Linked DNA regions of Homo sapiens: all the other regions are linked to region 1. The links come from fine-mapping of genetic effects on gene expression. A gene starts in region 1. Each other region holds a variant in brackets. All regions are shown on one strand. Distances are from middle to middle. Region 1 holds the start of FXYD5 (FXYD domain containing ion transport regulator 5). Region 2 overlaps HPN-AS1 (HPN antisense RNA 1). Region 3 has its middle 34 kb from the start of FXYD5. Region 4 has its middle 34 kb from the start of FAM187B.

Evidence for each region. PIP is the estimated chance that this variant, and not a neighbour inherited with it, causes the effect. A credible set is the group of variants that fine-mapping cannot tell apart.
Region 2: its variant is the best candidate, but not a certain one, in a credible set for the expression of FXYD5 in nasal epithelium (TOPMed, PIP 0.89).
Region 3: its variant is the best candidate, but not a certain one, in a credible set for the expression of FXYD5 in whole blood (TOPMed, PIP 0.57).
Region 4: its variant is the best candidate, but not a certain one, in a credible set for the expression of FXYD5 in whole blood (INTERVAL, PIP 0.71).

The regions. Positions count from the first base shown.
Region 1 is chr19:35,152,492-35,157,586 of GRCh38, reverse strand. It overlaps FXYD5 (FXYD domain containing ion transport regulator 5), which reads right to left and starts at 2,852. Exons shown (of 9, transcript NM_014164.6): 1 at 2,778-2,852; 2 at 1,976-2,036; 3 at 86-166. The coding sequence starts at 2,036. FXYD7 (FXYD domain containing ion transport regulator 7) reads right to left here. Exons shown (of 6, transcript NM_022006.2): 6 at 3,285-3,693. The coding sequence ends at 3,671. RefSeq lists enhancers at 1,912-2,081, 3,020-3,884, 4,834-5,095.
Region 2 is chr19:35,072,852-35,077,946 of GRCh38, reverse strand. The region is part of intron 3 of HPN-AS1 (HPN antisense RNA 1); the gene reads left to right. It also overlaps the pseudogene LOC100421064. Among named protein-coding and RNA genes, the nearest start is that of HPN-AS1, 31 kb to the left of the region's middle. The variant A/G (reference allele first, on the strand shown) is at 3,125.
Region 3 is chr19:35,185,758-35,190,852 of GRCh38, reverse strand. No RefSeq gene overlaps it. Among named protein-coding and RNA genes, the nearest start is that of FXYD5, 34 kb to the right of the region's middle. The variant A/T (reference allele first, on the strand shown) is at 2,617.
Region 4 is chr19:35,192,214-35,196,680 of GRCh38, reverse strand. No RefSeq gene overlaps it. Among named protein-coding and RNA genes, the nearest start is that of FAM187B, 34 kb to the left of the region's middle. The variant C/A (reference allele first, on the strand shown) is at 2,047.

The DNA.
Region 1 (5,095 bases):
TCCCTTGTTTGGTCCAAGTTTGGGATTTTTGTTGCTGTTGTTATTTGCAATGACAGGATCTTGATAGATGTGTCCCTTTCCTCACCTGGGGCTCGTGTCGGGACCTGAATGTCCATGATAGTTGAGTCTGCTGAAGAACTGGACGTGGTATCTTTCAACGTCTGTCCTGGGGAATCAAGGATGAGAAGTCAGGAGGGAGCCTGGTCCCCCTCCTCTCACCACCCCCGCCCTCGCCTCCCTGGTGAAACCTTAGGGGTCCTGTCTGCTGGTGGAATCACTCAGCTTTGGCTGCATCAATCCATAATTCTGAAAGTGTTTTCAGCTATGCCAATGCCTGGGAACCCTTCTTCTAGTCCCCCTCCCCGCCCATCCCTGTGGGATGGGAAAGTCAGTTTAGTCTAGTGAGCCCAGGTGCTAGGGTGAGCCTGGGCCCTGGTTTCAAATCCTGCCCCCAACAACTTTCTTGCTGTGTGACCTGGAACAAGTGAAGTCCTTTCTCTGAGCCTCAGTTGCTTCATCTGCAAAGCAGGGATAATAACTGAATCTACTTCACAGGGCTGTAGATAGGGTGAAATGACACAGAGCAGGGAAAGGGTCTCCCACACGGCTTACCATGTGGTCAGTGCTGGATAACTCCACTGCCCCCATCCTGGTCCTGCCTCTGTACCCTCCAGCCTGGACATCCCAGCAGCCTCCTTCTTGGGCTCCCTGCTCCTGTCTCCGCCCCCACAGTCTGTTCCAACCTGCAGCCAGAGGGAGCCTGGGACCACCTGAGTCAGGTCGGGGCCCGCCTGGTTCAGAGCCCTGCCCTGGCTGCACTTCACTCCACATAAAAGCAAAGCCCTCACGTGGCCCGTAAGTCCTCCTCCATCTGGTCCCATCACTTCTCTGTCCTCTCGTCATCCCACTCTGCCCCTTCTCATCCCAACCCAGCCACCCCACCTGCCTGCTATTCTTAAAACACACCAGACAACACTCAGCCCCCAGACACCTGCAAAGCTCATTCCCTCATTTCCTCCAAGTGTTTGTTGGTCCAAATGTCACCTCCTCAGTGAGGCCCTCCCTGACCACCCAGTTTAAACAATCCTCATTACCTCTACTTTTCTGCAAGCACGTATCACCTCCTAGCACACGATATAATTTACTAACTTGTCTCTCTCCACTAGAGTGTGACCTCTTGTTTTATTCAGTGCTGTTTCCCCAGTGCACAGAATATCTAGCACATAGTAGGTGCTCAATAAATATTTGTCAAATGACTGAACGAGTATATGAAAATCATTTTATGAAGGAGAAATGAGGGCGCCTTCAGTGGGGCATGCACCCTGGGTTCTGGGGGCAGGCAGGACAGTTGTTTTCTCAGCTCCTCCACCCATTCTCCTCTGACACAGGGCACTTCCCTTCGCTGAGCCTCAGTTTCCTCATCAGTAAAATGGGCAAGACAACAGGTGTGACTGACTGTCAGAGGCAAAGCCTAACTGACCTAACACACACCACACCTGCCACACAGAAAGAACGATCAATACCCCCCTGTGGTTCCCATCTTTCAGGAGACACTTTCCAGGCAAGGCTGAGATGTTGCCAACTCTTTGGACTAACCCCAGCTCAACAGCTTTGCCTAACTGTGTAATGCCTGGGGACTCTGGGAGCCTAGGTTTCCTGGCTGCTGAGTAGAAAACCGACACCAATCTCCCCGCCAAATGAAACTCAGTGAGTTCTTCTTGGAGGTGAAATTGGAGGATGCTCAGCAGGACAGGCCCTGGCCAGACTCACTGGAAGCAGCCACCCGGGTCTGAGGTGTCCAAAGAGGGTGTAACGTCGCCCCGCCATAGGGATCCCCACTTCCTGGTGCCGGCTCAGCGGGAGGGTGACAGGGCAGGACAACGTTCACACGGGCCAACCACCCACCCCGCAGCACACGTGGGGCTGGCCTGGCTGGGGGCTCTGGGGCAGGGTGGAGGCCAGAGATGGGTCTTACCTCTGGTGGGGAGAATCAGGCCAACGATGGTGAGAAGACACAGGCGACCAGAGGGCGACATCTGTGGGACCAGGCGATGCTGGGGTCAGCCATGATGTCAGTGAGACCGACCTCCGGCAGCCCCCGGGGATCCTGCAGCCCTTTCCCTGCCCTGAGCAAAAACCTCTGGCTTCCAAGACCCCCTGCCAGGGGCTGACGGCTGGCCTCAGGGGAAAGGGGAGGGTCTTAGGTGGGGATACCAAACCGTCACCCTGCTTCCTTCCCCTGCAGGTCCCCAAAGAAAACAAGAAGCATGAGATAAATGGGTCTTCCAGCAGCTGCAAGGGCCGGCGGGCACTCCTGAAGCAGAGAAACACCTCCCTGCGCCTTCCGCCAGGCGCTTATCCCTCACTGGGACTGACGCAAGGAGGGGACTGGGGCAGAGGAGTAGATAGGAGGCCTCTTCCCTCCCCCAGGGGCCCAGAGCCCGGGAGTCGGCGAGGAGGGGAAGGAGGAAGAGTGAGTAACGCCTCCCGCGCTCAGAGGAAAAAGTGAGTTGGTGTCAGGGGCCGCCTTGCAGGGATGGCGCGCTGGAGAGACCTAAGAGGCACTGGTCCGAGGGGGGTGGCAGAGAGCTGGGGAGACTGAGGCAGGCGGGCGGGAGCGAGGCAGAGCGGCCCACTGTAGCCCAGGAGAGGAGGCAGAGAGATGTGGGCGTGGATGGGGGGCGGAGAGGAGCGGAAGGGGTCAAACCCCTACCCACCTGAGCCCGGCCCGTGGGCAGAGGGGCAGCGGATGGAGGTGGCGCACGAGAGGGACTTACGTCGGAGCTGGGGGTCCTAAGCCGGCAGCCTCGTGGAGAGAGGGACGCGGCGGTGGCTGCTGCGTCCAGGCGGAGGGTGTGGCCAGGGGAGCGCGAGCGGGCGGGGACCCAGACGGGCTCAGTCATTTCCTCTTGGGTTTCCTGGCTTCAGAGCCCGGGGTGGGAGCAGGAGGGGGAATCGCTGAGGGCGACGGGGGGCAGGGGTGAGGGCATAGTGGTGGGAGAGGGTGGGAACGGGGATGGGGCAGGCAGGTCTAGGGTGAGTGGACGCCTCTGAGAGAGCAGGGGGAGAAACGGGAGGGCTCTATTCTGGGGTCGCTGGAGGAAGGGAAAGGACAAATCCGGAGGTGTTGAGGAAGGAGAAGGGATTGAAGGGGGGCATCTCGGGGCACTGGGGGAGGAGAATGAAGAGGGGGCGACTCCGGGCACGCAGGGGAGAGCTACCCCAGGTTCAGTTCTGCACCCCTACCCACACCGTGCCCCACAGATGAGAACACACAGACAGAACAGAGGAAAAAACCAAATGCACATTTATTAAGCTCAAGACATGGACACTGAGGGGCCAGGGGGACGGATCTTCGGGGATGAGACAAGGAGGTGCAGGGGGGCCATACACGGGGATGCTGGGGGTGCTGGGCCGGGATGGACTCCCGGATCCCAGGAGCTGGAGGCCTGAGGCCCTGGGTCTGGGGTGCAGACGGGCTCTTTGGGGGATCGTCATTGCCAAGGCCTGGAGAGGGACAGCAGGGTGCAGCGGCTCCAGCCTTGGGGTGGGTGGGGCGGCTCATTCCGGGGAGCGCTCCCGGCGCGCGGCTGGGTCCCCACCGCCTCCACCCGGTCCTCAGGCTCCCGCGCTCAGGCAGGGTCGGCAGCGGAGTTTCCTCGGGAAGGTGTTACACGCCGCCGCCACCAGGGGCTGGGGAGAGAGGGGGTGCGTGAGCCACTAGAAAGGTGGAAACTGCCTCCCTCCCCACAGCTCGTTGGCTCTCCATTCCCCGGCACCATGGAAGCCAGACCCCAGGGACTGTCACCCCAGAGCTAACACTGAGGAGCTGTCTTGCCTCCCACACTCTAATGTCTTGTTCCCTTGGGGACACCTCCTGGCTGCTGTCATGGAGAGAAACACCTGCTACGGGGCTGGCGACCCCAGACCCAACCTGGGCTTTTGGGGCTATCCGCCTGCCAGAAAGGGAGTCCCCATCTCCCTTCCCATTTGCAATCTCCTCCTACACCCTCACTCCTTTCCTACACTCCCTGTCCTGAACATTTGGATACAACGGGAAGTCCCCCATTCCCCACCCGCTGCAGACCATCATTCACCTAGGATAGACCAGAAACCTGTGCAAAGTCTTCAGCTGTGCCCCAGGTGACAAGGCCAACCCCCATGCTGCCCCACGCATCCATAAGTGCCTTGTTCATGTTTTAAAACTCATTAAATAAACATGAAACAGGCCAAGCGCTGTGGCTCACGCCTGTAATCCAAGCACTTTGGGAGGCCGAGGATGGCGGATCGTTTGAGGTCAGGAGTTTGAGACCAGCCTGGCCAAAATGGTGAACCACCATCTCTGCTAAAGATATAAAAATTAGCCGGGTGTGGTGGTGTGTGCCTGTAGTCCCAGCTATTTGGGAGGCTGAGGCAGGAGAATCGCTTGAACCCAGGACGCAGAGGTTGCAGTGTTGTAATAAGCTGAGATCGTGCCACTGCACTCCAGCCTGGGCAACAGAGGACACAGCAAGACTCTGTCTCAAAAAAAAAAAAAAAAAAAAAAAAAAAAAGGAACGTGAAACAAATTCCACACCAAATACTTCTCAACCATTGAATAACCCGTGTCCCCCTCCCGCATTTTTTTTTTTTTTTTTTTTTTTTTTAGTTATAAGAACTTTATAAGAGACACAGAAATTCCCATTTCTGTTCTTTTACAAGTCTCCAGAAAGGCTGCATTTCCACTAAAAACAGGTCAAGTTATTTTTACATAATTAAAATTAACAGCCTCAAAGAGATCAGTCTTTCGTTGACATGCTTGCCCTGCATCCCTCTCGCTCTCCCTTTACACTTTCCATGCTTACACCCATTCTCCCTCCTCCACCCTCCACGCCCTCCTCCTCCCATCCTCCTCCCCTTCCTTCCTGGGCTCCTCCTTCCCACATTCTCCCCAACACCTCCGTCCTCTCCACTCTCTCCCCTCCTGTTCTTCCCAGCTTTCTTCTCCATCCTCACATTCCCTGCATCCCATATGTTCTTTTCCAATGTGAATTCTAAAATCTGCATTCTATTCATCTCTCTTTTTGTTATTTTGATGCAACTATTCAGAAACCTT
Region 2 (5,095 bases), 80 kb after region 1:
GTAGGTGTGAACAGGTGGCCAGGGAGAGGAGGTGAGTGAGGGTGCCAGGGAGGTGGAAGGAAGGTCCTTTCAAGTTCACAGTCACAGGTACGACACCAGCCCAGGTGTGCTCTGCTGCCTACATGCAGGGGTGAGTGCAAGTGGAGAGGTGTGGTTCACCTGTGGGGTATTGGAGGAAGGAGCGCAGGAGGTATGAGTGTAGACAAGCAGGGATTTGAGAGGGAGCCTGATGTCCCAGAAGGTAAGAAGTGGGGAAGCACCGTAGGCTCAGTAGGCTCAGCAGATGGGGCGGCCAGTGAGGTCAACCAGTCAGGAAACCAGAGGGTGGGCGGCAGAAACTGGGTTGTATAACAGAGAAAGGTGGGGTCAAGGGGACAGGTGGCGCTGAGGCCCCGGAGGGCTGCATCGGTGGGCAATGTGAGGTCCATGGCTAGGATGAGAGCCCGGGAGGCTCTGTCTGCCTGCGACCATCGTCGGCCTCAGCGAGTCCACCAAGTGCTTCGCCATCTGCTCGCCATGTGTCCTTCTGTCCATCTAGCCCCCTTCTGCCGTCTGTCTTGCCACCTGCTCTGGTCATCCCAACGTCACTCTGTCTGTCTTTCCATCAACCTGTCCACCTGTCCAACCCTCCTGTCTTCCTGTCCATTGGCCAGCTGGTCTGTCTTCTTGTCCGTCTCTCTGCCTGTTATTCATTTTGTCTGTCTGTCTGCCTGCCTGTCCATCTAACATTTGACTCTGCCCGCCAGTCTCTGTGGCAGTCTCTGGGGCTGTGGGCACTTAGTGTGTCTGCGACTCCACGGCTGTCCGGGTTCTATCCTCCAGCCCGGCTCCCAGCCCCACTCACCAGGATGTGTTCTATTGGGCCATGCGATCTCACTACCACATCCCAGCCATGGATGACCAGCCGCACCAGGGCCTCTGCCACCGGGCCTCCCCTCCTCAACTCCACCTCCACGCAGATGCCAGGAAGCAGGGCCAGGACGAAGTGGCAGGGCTGGAGCCACAGCTGCCATCTGGAGAGTGTGTGCGGGTGGCCCTGGGGACCCAGGTGGCAGGAGGGGCCACGAGGGGCCCAGCAGTGTGGGAAGGGGTGTGCAGGCATACACTGCTGCCCCACCTGGCAGCCCTCTGGCCAGCACCACACCCGGCCTTCCTGCCCACAGTGTGGTGGCTGCAGGCACTGCTGTTCCACAAAGAGGCACCTAGGGGCAGGAACTGGGCTGTGGAGAGAGTGGGCTGCGGTGGGGGTGTCTGGGGCTGAGGCTTGAACCTCAGGTCCTGAGGAAGGTGGGGACTGGGGGTTCTGACTCCTGGATCTTTTTTTTTTTTTTTAATTTGAGACAGAGTTTCGCTCTTGTTGCCCAGGCTAGAGTGCAATGGCGCGATCTTGGCTCACTGCAACCTCCGCCTCCTGGGTTCAAGCAATTCTCCTGCCTCAGTCTCCCAAGTAGCTAAGATTATAGGCATGTGCCACCATGCCCGGCCAATTTTGTATTTTTAACAGAGACGGGGTTTCTCCATGTTGGTCAAGCCTCGAACCCTCAACCTCAGGTAATCCGCCTGCCTCGGCTTCCCAAAGTGCTGGGATTACAGGCATGAGCCACCCCGCCCGGCCTCTGATTCCTGGATCTAAGGATGGAATGGACTGAGGGCTGACTGGACTCCTGGGTCTTGGAGGAGGAGAGTGTGGGGCCTGGGCTCCTGGGCTCTGTGGCTGGGCCCTGGGAGCAGGCAGGTCTGGGGCAGGTTCTCCACCCTTCACCATTGTAGGTGCAGCCGTTGGGGACTGCAAAGCTGTTGATGCAGAAGGCCTAGTGCCTGGGGATGCCCACATTGCTGGTGTCTGCCACATTCAGGATGCCTGAGGTCCGGGAGCCAGGAAGGGTGAAGTAGTCCCTCTGTCGGCCGCTGTTGAAGCCTGCCTGGGGGTGTCATTTGGAACAGGGTCAGCCCACCTGCGTCCTCACCCTCCCCAAGGACCCAGGGAGGCCCCTGTGGGTTCCCCACTCACCTGGGCCGCAATGCCCCCCAGGCCGTGGTGGGGGCTCCCACCGCTGGCCACCCCCATGGTCCACTGGATGTCCTTGTGGTGAAACAGCACCCAGGAGGGGCCGCTGCCCAGGGCCAGCACCTCCTGGAAGGTGTTCACCTGCAGGGCAAGCGCCAGGAGCCAGGGTGTCGTGGGCTGGTCCAGGGGCACCCAGGACCCTCCTCACTGCCCAGTCCTCAACCGAGCTCCATCTGCACCACTAAGCTGGCTGCTTCCAGCTGTGCCACCTCCTGGGCCCCCATCCACACCACATCCCGGGCCCCTACCCATGCCACATCCCAGACCCCCATCCACGCCACCTCCCAGGCCCCTGTCCACACCATGTCCACAGCTGCCTCTGCTGGCACCTGTGCCAGCCTTCCTTTCACATCCCCCAGTCTCGATTTTTCTGCTCTGCTCTCATCCCCTCTCTCTCTCCGTCTCTCTCCTTTTCCTATTCTCTGTCTCTCCATCTGATCATCTCACTCCTCTCGCTTGCTGTCTTGCCTCCTCTCTCTCGCCATTTCTCTCCCTGTTCGTGTCTTCCCTCTTTCTCACCCATTTTCTCTACCTCGCTGCATCTCCATGCTTCCGTCTCTCTGTCTCTCTCTTCCCGCCCCCTCTATCTCTCCCTCGTTCCCCCATCTCCGTCTCTCCTCCGTGGTGTCTCCTCCTTACCCAGGAATCCAAGCCCTTCTTCCCAAGGGGTTGGGCCAAACAGCCTCAGCCTGGGCCCTTCTCTGCCACCCGCTTCCTCACCTGGGGACCAAGTGCCCCGTAAAATGGAATTTGGTCCCACATGGCCACCAGCAGGGCGCAAGGGGTGGGCGGGGCATGGGGGAAGGCTGAGGCCAGGTCTCAGGCCACCTGCTGCGGCAGCTCTGGCTGGCGGCTCTGCCGGTACCACATCTGGCCCCTGCTCAGTGTGGACCCATTGGCCCAGAACGGGACTGCGAAGGCCTGGCCCATCTCCTGGGGAAATGCCTCCAGTGTGAAGAGAGCCACAGGCTCCCCGAAGGACACCAGCCCATTGGTGCAGAACTGGGGGAAGTGAGGAAGGGCAAGACCCGCAGGGGGGTGTTGGCAGGGCAGGGG[A/G]CAGAAGAGGGACAGGGCCCGCCCCAGGAAGACAGAGGACGAAGCCAGAAGGAGCCAGGAGCTATAGATATAGACAGGCTCCGAGTCAAGAGTGGGGTGGGGAGAAGAGAGAGAGCCCAGGGACCGCACGGTCAGGGCCAGGGCACTCACATAGGCCGTCCCGTGTGTGGCTTCAAAGAGCATGAAGGGCTCCAGCAGCCGCAGCTCCTCAGAGAAGTCATCATCCTCTGCAGGGAGGGCCTGATCCCCACACTCCAGCCCATAGGGGTACAGGAGCGAGGCTGGGGACACGAGACCACTGAGGCTCCCCTCAGAGCCCCAGGGCAGGGCTGTGTCCCCTCAGTCCCCAAGAGAAAGCTCCAGGTCCCCTGAGGGACTCCAGGGTGGGGCCATGGCTCCTCAGACCCCTGGAGCCCTCCCTGCCTGTCCACATGGCCCTGTCCTCTCTCCAGGTTAGGGAGCACATCCATTCTCACCTCTGATCTCCTTGCTCCAAGTCACTTGGTTCTGTAGGACTGAGGGGAAGGATGTCAGCTAAGGGCTGGGGCCCACGTGGCACAGTCGACCCCCTTCCAGAGTCCCCACTCCTACTCACCCACCAGCAGAAGCCACAGTATCCCCATGGTGGCTGCAGGTGCTGCGGGCCAGGCGGGCTTATACCAGGGCAGAGGTGGGGCCAGGGTGGGGACGGGGCAGCTGGAGCTCACCTTCCATTGTTCGAGGGTCCAGGGGGCCTGGGGGTCTCCCAGGGATCCTGGTTCCCATCCGGTCTGCCTGAGGCTGGGCCAGGTCTGGGGTTGGTGGGCAGGGCAAGGGAGGAAAGAGGGGATGGAAATCTTCCAGGGCTTTCCCAGGGGGCCGGGTTGCCAGACCCTGGAGGAACCCCCCACCCATTAGCAGGGCTGGGCACAAGTCAAGCGATCCACAGTGGGAAAGTTGAGCCACTGCTTGGTGAAGGGCCGCTGCTGACAGACAGCTGAACATGCAGGGAGCCTCTTCCCATGGGGCCCTGCTGGTTCTCTTGGAGCAGGTTAGAGATGAGCACACAGCATCCAGGAACGGAGTGCATGTGCATCAAGCAGGGCCAAGATGTGTGGCTGGGGAGACTCGTGGGCTGCTGGCCAGCCCCGGGGGCCCAGGGGTGGGCATCTGCAGGGCATGGCTGGGGCTGCCATGGTGGATAGTCAAGGTCAGGCATTTAGGAGTGTTACTGGACCCAGAAGGGGAGATTCGCCTGGAGACGTGAACGGGGAGACGGGGAGGAGGAGCATACAGGCAAGGGGGCTCGTTACTGTGCACCTGTGAGATTCACGGACCACCCTGGTGGAGGAGGCTCAGAGTTAGGCACTGGGGACTCCATCTTCAAAGCAGTGTCCCAAAGGGGTGCTCCAGACCCTCAAACCCCAGACAGCCCTTTACCTGGTCAAACCACATGGGACAGAGGGTCACCTGTGTTCCTGGACCAAACTGAGGATTAGGCTGCTATTTCTCATGGCCCAGTGATGAGATGCAGATAAACTGGGAGAACAGGGAGGTTTTTTTTGTTTTTGTTTTTGTTTTTGTTTTTGTTTTTTGAGACGGAGTCTCGCCCTATCGCCCAGGCTGGAGTGCAATGGCACTGTCTCGGCTCACGGCAACCTCTGCCTCCCGGGTTCAAGCAATTCTCCTGCCTCAGCCTCCCAAGTAGTTGGGATTACCAACACCCACCACCATGCCTGGCTAATTTTTGTATTATTAGTAGAGACGGGGTTTCTCCATGTTGGTCAGGCTTGTCTCGAATTCCTGACCTCAGGTGATCCGCCTACCTCGGCCTCCCAAAGTGCTGGGATTACAGGCATGAGCCACCGCACCCAGCGAAAAGGGAGTTTTTATTTCTGTAACTGGTTATAGGGTGAAAGCCTGGAAATTGTCCCCAGACCAACTCAAAATTACAAAGTTTTCCAGAGCTTATATACCTTCTAAGCTATATGC
Region 3 (5,095 bases), 33 kb before region 1:
CCTCTAACAAGACTGAGGAGAGAAGAAGGGAGAGAAAGAGATAGAGGTAGAGATAAAGAGAGAAGAGAGAGAAGGGAGGGATTATCAATATTAGGGTAGAAAGAGGACAGCTATCACCACAGACCCTATAATTATTAAAAAGCTTATAAAGGAATATCAGTAATAACTCTATACACATAAATATCAAAATTTAGATGAAATGGACCAATTTCTCAAAAACTACCAGCTACTACATTCACCACTGTTGAAATAGATAATATGAATAGTCTAGTAACTATTAAATAAATTGCATGTATAGTTAATGCCATTTTAAAAAATCTCCTGGCCCAGGTGGTTTCAATGGTTTTAAATAAGTAATTTAAAGAAGAAATAGCACTAATTCTTCATAATTTCTTCCAGAAAATACAAAAGGAGAAATACTCTCCAACTCATGTTATGAAGCCAGCATTACCCTGATGACAAACCAGATAGACAGTACAAAAAATAATAATAAACACAACTAAAATACTCCTCATGAATATAGATGCAAAAATACTCAATAAAATGTTAGCAAATTGAACTCGGCAATATGTAAAATGAGTAGTAAACTATGACCGGCCGGGCGCGGTGGCTCACACCTGTAATCCCAGCACTTTGGGAGTCTGAGGTGGGCGGATCACCTGAGATCAGGAGTTCAAGACCAGACTGACCAACATGGAGAAAACTCATCTCTACTAAAAATACAAAATTAGCCAGGCATGGTGGTGCACAGCCTGTAATCCCAGCTACTTAGGAGGATGAGGCAGGAGAATCACTTGAACCCAGGAGGCAGAGGTTGGGGTGAGCCGAGATCCTGCCATTGCACTCCAGCCTGGGCAACAAGAGTGAAACTCTGTCTCAAAATAATAATAATAATAAATGAATAAATACAATAAACTATGACCAAATGGGATTTATACTAAGAATGCAACAATGGTCCAATTTTTTAAAATCAATCACTATTACCATATTAACCATCTAAAGAAGAAAAATCATGATTATATCAATAGGTGCAGACAAAGTATTGACAAAATAAAACACTCATACATGTTTTGTTTTGTTTTGCAAAAAATAATCCTAGCAAACTAGGAATAGAAGAGAACTTCATCAACCTGATAAAGAGCATCAAAAAGCCTACAGCTAATATCATACCAAACAGTGAAAAATGAATGCTTTCTTTCTTAAGATTGGGAACAAGACAAGCATGTTCACCATTTCTATTCAACATCATATTGAAAGTCTTAGCCAGTGTAATAAGTCAAGAAATGGAAGTAAGAGGCATATAGATTGGGAAGGAAAAAATAAAACTGTTCCCATCCCCAGTTGAAATGATTGTTTATGTAGAAAATCTCAATAAATATAAAATCAATCAATAAATAAAACAAAAAACCCCTGGCACTAATAAAGAAATTTTGTAGGAAACACAAGCTAATATGGCAGATGTAAATCCAATTGTATAAATAATAACATTAAATGTTGATGAAATGAACAATTCAATTAAAAGTCAAATATTTCAGACTAGATTTTTTTTAAAAACCAAGATACAGCCAAAAGCTATCTATAGGAAAAACATGTAAGATTCAAAAATGTAAAGTAAAATGATGAAAGACAATATATCAATATATCATGCAGTGACTACAAGAAAGCTGGAGTGGCAATACTAACGTCAGAAAAAATAAGCTTTGTAACAAAAAAGTTATTACAGATAAAGAGAAGCATTGTATAATGATAAGGCGGTCAGTCCATCAGAATATATAACAATATAAACACATATACATCTAATAATAAAGCACCAAAATACATAAAGCAAAAACTAATAAAAATGAATAGAGAAATGAACAAATCCACAATAATAGTTGGAGACTTCAGTACCTCACTTCCAATAATGGATAGAACAACTAGGCATAAAATCAACAAGAAAATGGAAGATCTGAACAGTATTAATCAACCAGATATAACAGACAACTATAGCACACTTCTCCCAACAAAAGCAGAATACACAATCTTCTCGACTGCACGGAGAATATTCTGTAGGATAGAACCTGCACTAGGCAACAAAACAAATCTGTATAAAATTTTGATTTTAAAATTAAAATCAAAATCATGCGGCTGGGCACAGTGGCTCATGCCTGTAATCATAGAACTTTGGGAGGTTCAGGTGAGAGGATCACCTGAGGTCAGGAGTTCGAGACCAGCCTGGCCAACATGGCGAAACCCTGTCTCTACTAAAAATACAAAAATTAGCCAGGCATGGTGGCGATCTGCAATCTCCACCTCCTGGGTTCAAGCGATTCTCCTGCCTCAGCCTCCCAAATAGCTGGGACTACAGGCGCCCGCCACCACTCTTGGCTAATTTTTTTGTATTTTTAGTAGAGACAGGGTTTCACTATGTTGGCCAGGCTGGTCTTGAGGCCAGGCTGGTCTTGAACTCCTGACCTAGTGATCCACCCTCCTCAGCCTCCCAAAGTGCTGGGATTACAGGCATGAGCCATCGTGCTGGCCGTAAATTCTTTTTTTTTTTTTTTTTTTTTGAGATGAAGTCTTGCTCTGTCGCCCAGGATGGAGTGCAGTGGTGTGATTTTGGCTCACTGCAACCTC[A/T]GCCTCCCGGATTCAAGCGATTATCCTGCTCAGCCTCCAAAGTAGCTGGGATTACAGGTACCCACCACCATGCCTGGCTAATTTTTGTATTTTTAGCAGAAATGGGGTTTCACCATGTTGGCCAGGCTGGTCTCGAACTCCTGACCTCAAGTGATCCACCTGCCTTGGCCTTTCAAAGTGTTGGGACTGGCGTGAGCCACTGCGCCCAGTTGAAATAAATTATTAGAAGACATATACTACTGAAACTGATTCAAGAGAAATCAGACAATTTGAATAGTCCTCTAATAAGTAAAGAGATTGAATTAATGACCAAAGACACACACACACATACACACACACACACACACACACACACACACACACACCAAGAACCAGATAGCTTCACTGGCAGATTTTTCTAAAAATTTAAAGAAGAGCTAATACCAATTCTTCTCAAACTCTTGCAAAAATTAAAAAAAGGAGGCAACGCTTTCCAGTGGATTATTTGGGACCAGTATTACCCCAGTACAAAAACCAGAGAAAGACACAAGAAAACTACAGACAAATATCTCTTATAAATATAAATGCAAATATCCTTAACACAATACTAGCAAACTAAATCCAGAGACATATAAAAAGTGTTATAGACCACGACCAAGTGGGACTTATTCCAGGAATGTAACAGTGGCTTCACATCTGAAAATTAGTGTAATACACCATATCAACAGAATAAATTACAAAACCACATGATCATTTTAATGGACACAGAAAAGTCTTAAACCAGATGGCTTCATGAGTTAGTTCAACAAAACTTTTTTTTTCTTTTGAGACAGAGTCTCCCTCTGTTGCCCAGGCTGGAATGCAGCAGTGTGATCTCGGTTCACTGCAACCTCTGCCTCCCAGGTTCAAGGGGATTATCTTGCCTCAGGTTCCCGAGTAGTTGGGATTAGAGGTGCCTGCCAGCACGCCAGGCTAATTTTTGTATTTTTAGTAGAGACGGGGTTTCGCCATGTTGGCCAGGCTGGTCTCGTACTCCTGACCTTAGATGATCTGCCCCCCTCGGCCTCCCAAAATGCTGGGATCACAGGCGTGAGCCACCACACCTCATCACTGCAGCCACTATGGAAAACAGTCCAGTAGTTCCTCAAACTGTTAAAAATGCAGTCACCATTTGACCCAGCAATTTTATTCCTAAGAGAAATGAAAACTTATGTCCACATAATAACAAATACATAAGTTTATTTTCATATTATTCATAATAGCCAAAAGGTGAAAACAAAACCAAATATCTACAAACTGATGGAGGCATAAACAATATTTGGGGGGGCGGGGTCTGTAAAAAAAAAAACAAAAAAAACCCCAATATGTGGTAAATCCACACAATGAAATATTATTCAGCCATAGAAAGGAACATAGTACTGATACATGCTATGATGCGGATGAACCTTGAAGACATTACATTCAGTGAAAGAAGCCAATCACAAGACACCACATATTATATGAATACATTTATATGAAATGTCCAAAATAGGAAAATATATAGAGACAGAGAGTAGACTAGTGGTTGCTTAGGGCTGAGACATTTGGGAACAGGAGGAAAATAGCTATGGAGCATTGGGTTTCTTTTGTGGGGGTGATAAAAATATTTTAAAATTGGTCTGGGCACGGTGGCTCACACCTGTAATCCCAGCGCTTTGGGAGGCCGAGGCAGGTGGATCACGAGGTCAGGAGATCGAGACAATCCTGGCTAACATGGTGAAATCCCGGCTCTACTAAAAATACAAAAAATTAGCTGGGCGTGGTGGCGGGCACCTGTAGTCCCAGCTACTCGGGAGGCTGAGGCAGGAGAAAGGCGTAAACCCGGGAGGCCAAGTTTGCAGTGAGCCGTGATCATGCCACTGCACTCCAGCCTGGGTGACAGAGCAAGACTCTCTCTCAAAAAAAAAAAATGTTTTTAAATTGATCGTGATGATGGCTGTACATATCTATGGATATACTAAAAACCATTGACTTGTACATGATTTTTAAAAATTTTTAATTGCTGTGGGTACATCATAGGTGTATTTATTTATGGAGAACATGAGATGTTTTGATACAGGCATGCAATGTGAAATAATCAGATCGGCTTGTATGCTTTAAATGTGTGAACTGTATGGCATGTGAATTGTATGGTAAGCGAATTCTATTACAAAAATTAAAAAATTAAAATAAGAAAAAAGAGTTGCCCTTTCCATGACAGGAACAGTTCAATGTGGCTGGGCGCAGTGGCTCACACCTGTAATCCCAACATTTTGGGAGGCTGCGATGGGTGGAACACCTGAGGTCAGCAGTTTGAGACCAGCCTGGCCAACATGATGAAACCCTGTCTTCACTAAAAATATGAAAATTAGCTGGGTGTGGTGATGGATGCCTATAATCCCAGCTACTCAGGAGGCTGAGGCAGGAGAATCTCTTGAACCTGGGAGGTGGAGGTTGCAATGAGCCGAGATTGTTCCATTGC
Region 4 (4,467 bases), 39 kb before region 1:
CTTTTCCACTGAACACAACTAGAAAATCCAGACAGAATACATGGCCCAGCTATTTGACAATTTTGGAAAGTCAGTTACAACAGTTGCATTGGGAAAGGAACACAAAAATTCAAAGTGCCACCAAATCAATGATGAGTTTACTATATTATTTTCCTCCTGTATCCCCTGACCTGAACTCAATACAGTCCAAAACTTGGAAATGAGCACTGTGGTGCAGACAGGGAGAAACCTAGGAGAGGCCTGGCTGAAGGAGCAGGAAAGGGTACTCCTAAAGTTCAGAGAGAGTGGGGAGAATTTATTTTCTCCCCCTTTTCTGTTTTCTTTCGAGCAATCCCATTGCAGTAGCAGAGCAGCTGGCAGAAGCCAAAAATTCAGGAAAGGACTTTTCTCTCCATTCAGTGGAAAGGATCAGACTCCATTGCTTTTTTTTCTCCCTCTCTGTTCTCCAACCTCTTGATCCTAGACCTGGCACAATCATGAAATTGGGCAGTTTCTGTCTGGAGGATCAGAAAGGGGAGCCCAGGGAACCAGAAAGTATCGGAAGATAACAGAGAGGGAAGGGCTTGAGAAAGTCACCCCATAAAGTTATTTATGAACTCATGGACTCATCTGGCCCTAATTAGCATGCCGCAGACTGGAAACTGAGCTAATGATTAGACTTCTGCCCAGGGCCCAGACTGACCACTGGATGACACATTTGGAAGATAGATCAGAATAGCATTGCAAATGCTTCAAAAACTGAACTGACATTGGAACTACAGGGCATAGAAGGCAAGTAGGAACTTAGCAGTCTGAATTTACCCAGGTTAACTGGCCACTAAAACAAAACCATCAATATTCTCAATAGGATTTAAACAAGACTCAGAGTGTCATAATATAATGTTCAAAATGTGCAGGATGCAGTCCAAAATTACTTGGCATACAAAGGATACCAAAATTCTTAACTCTCATGGGAAAAGACAATCAATTCATGCTATTGCAATGATGTAAACTTTGCAATTATATAAAAAAACTCTTAAAACAAATATTAAAGATATCAGCAAGGAAATAAAACACATGAAGAAGAAACAAATGGAAATTGTGCAACTGAAAAACACTATAACCAAAATAAAATATTCATCGAATGGGCTCAATAACAAAATGGAGATGGGAGAAGAGAGTCAGTCAACATAAAGATACAACAATAAAAATAACCAAATCTGTATAGTAGAAAGAAAAAAGACTTAAAAAAAAAAATTGAACAGTGCCTTAGGAACCTGTGGGACAACCACAAAGGTCTAACATTTGTATCCCAGAGGCCAGAGGAAAGTGCGGTGCTGAAAAATATTTTGAAGAAATAATGACAGAAAACATCTCAAGTTTAGCAAAAGCCATTGTGACATAATAAGAAGTAATTTTTTTTTTTTTTTTTTTGAGAGAGTCTAGCTCTGTCGCCCAGGCTGGAGTGCAGTGGTGCCACTGAAACCTCTGCCTCCTGGGTTCCAGCGATTCTACTGTCTTAGCCTCCCGAGTAGCTGGGATTACAGGCATGCGCCACCATGCCTGGCTAATTTTTGTATTTTTAGTAGAGACGGGGTTTCACCATGTTGGCCAGGCTGGTCTCCAACTCCTGACCTCAAATGATCCATCCGCCTCGGCCTCCCAAACTGCTGGGATTACAGGCATGAGCCACCGCACCCGGCCAAGAAATAAATTTTGGTCTATGCCTTCCCCCACTTCCTGACACACTGCTCCTAAAACAACTGAAATATTTTTGTATGCTAATGAGATGACTGATGGTTGGGGGATCCAGGACAGCTTCAGAATGAGGTCTCCTTGCCCAGAGAACCAAACACGTGATGAGTGGGCTAGAACTTCTAGCCACACCCCACCTCCATCTCTGGGGAGCGGGACGGGGAGTGAAGGTAGAGTTCATCACCAAAGGCCAACGATGCAATCAATCATGCCTATGTAATGAAGCTTTCCACCAAAACCCTAACAGATAGGGTTCTGAGAGCTTCTGGGTTGCTGAACAAGTGGAAATGCTAGGAGGCAGGTACAGCTGGA[C/A]AGGACATGAAGCTCTGCACCCCTTCCCTCATATCTTGCCCTATGCATCTTCCATCCGGCTGTTCCTGATTTGGATTCTTTGTAACAAGTGGGTAAATACTGATACTGAGCAAGGTTCATTTTGCCTGCACTCAATAAGCCAATCACTGTGGCGAAAGGTTTTGCAAAAAATAAAGGGTTTGTTCATGAGACAGCCAAGTGAGGAGGTGGGTGAATGGGTCTCAAATCTGCCTCCCCAAAGATGGGATTTAGGGATATTTATGAGATAAAGAAGCAGAGTGGTCTGAGGTGTGGAGAAAGGGAATTGGGATAAGAAAAAGTGAGGTAATTGGCAATCTGCACACACATAGTCAAGCCTCATGGCTCTTCATAGGAAGCATGTTTAGAAAATGGTGGCGTTAGTATGATCTGTAGGAAGATCTTTATGGCCCTCTGGTGTCAGAAGCTCACCTCTTGGACATTCACGCAGGCCCAGGTGAAGTGGTCTCAAGCGGCTTGAACTGGACAAGAGCTGACCCCAAATTCATGAAAAATAACTTTAAGCAACTGTTACCATGGTGACCTATACATCAGAGATATTATCTATAAGGAAGATAGTAGATTGCTTAGTTACATGACTTTTAGCTATATAGTTATTAAGATTAACTAGAAGTAAGGAATTAAAAGTAAGTAAGGCAGTTTAAGTTCAGTGGGCTTAATCAAGTTAATTCTCAGTTTCAGCATACAGAGTGGGTTCTGTGAGCCATTCTAGCAAATGACTGAACCCAAGTAAAGGATCTTGTGAACCTGTAATTTGTAGCCAAGTCAGACAGAAGTTGTGGATAACCTGGGAATCTATCACTTATGATTGACATCTGAAGTGGGATGCAGTCTTACGGGACTGAGCCCTTAACTTTTGGGATCTGACACTGTCTCTAGGTAAATAGTGTTAGAACTGAATTGAATTGTAGGACTCCCAACTGCCATAGGAGAATTGCTTGTTTGGGGGGGGAAGGAACCCCACACATCTGGCATCAGAAGTGTTGAGTGCTGAGGGTGAGTATAGAAGAGGAAAAACAGTTTGTTTTCCCTATATACAGACTTAAACCTGCAGATTCAAGGAGCTAAGTGAACCCCAAATAGGATAAACCCACAGAAATCCATGCACAGACAAATCATAATTAAACTGCTAAAAATTAAATATGAAGAAAATATCTTGAAAGAAGAAAAAAAAAAAAAAAAAGAAAAGAAAAAAAACCCAACAAGCCAATACATGTGAATAATTCAAATGATGGCATATTTCTCAGCAGAAACCATGGAAGCCAGAAGGAAATGGCCTAATATTCTTAAAGTGCTGAAAGAAAATAAGTGTCAATCTGGAATTCTATCTCCAGTGAAAATAACTTTCAGGAATAAAGGCGAAATAAAGACATTCTTAGATTAAGTAAAACTAAGAAAATTCATACCCAGCGGAAATGCTGTAAAAAACATTGCTAAAGGAATTGCTTCAGACAGAAGGGAAATGATACCGGAAGGAAACTTGGAACATCAGGAATAAAGGAGGAACAACAGAAGTAATAACTACCTGGGTAAATATAATAGGCTATTCTCCTCTTGAGTTCCTTAAAATCTGTTTTACAGTTGGAAAAAAAAAAAACTATAACATTGGCCATGGAATTTTCATGAATGTGTATGTAATACATGACAAGTATAACATAAGGGGGAGAATTAAGAGACCTACTAGTGCTAAAGTTTTGAGTGATAAAATATTGTTTCTAAATACAGTGTAAAAAGTTCAGTGTGCATTTTGTAATCCCTAGAGTTACCACTAAAACTTATACAAATAGTTATAGTAAAAATCATAATTGATAACTTAAAATGGAAGACTAAACTATGTTCAAATAAGCAAAAAAAATGTCAGGAAAGGAAAAAGAGAGGAACAAAAACAAAATAGGCTGGGCACAGTGGTTCATACCTGTAATCCTAGCACTTTGGGGGGCTGAGGCAGGCAGATCATGAGGTCAGGAGTTCGAGACCAGCCTGGCTAACATGGTGAAACCTCATCTCTACTAAAAATACAAAAATTAGCAGGGTGTGGTGGTGGGTGTCTGTAATCCCAGCTACTCAGGAGGCTGAGGCAGGAGAATTGCTTAAACCCAGGAGGCGGAGGTTGCAGTGAGCTGAGATCATGCCACTGCACTCCAGCCTGGAAAACAGAGCAAGACTCCATCTCAGAAAAAAAATAAAATAAAAAATAAATGAAACAAATAGAAAACACATGATAAAATGGTATACCCAACCCAAACATATCAATTATTACATTAAATGTAAATGGTCTAAATATATGAATTAAAAGAGATTATGAGAATAGATTAAAAAATTCACTTAACTATATGCTCTCAACAAGAAACTCTTTAAATTTAAGGAAATTTGTAGATTAAA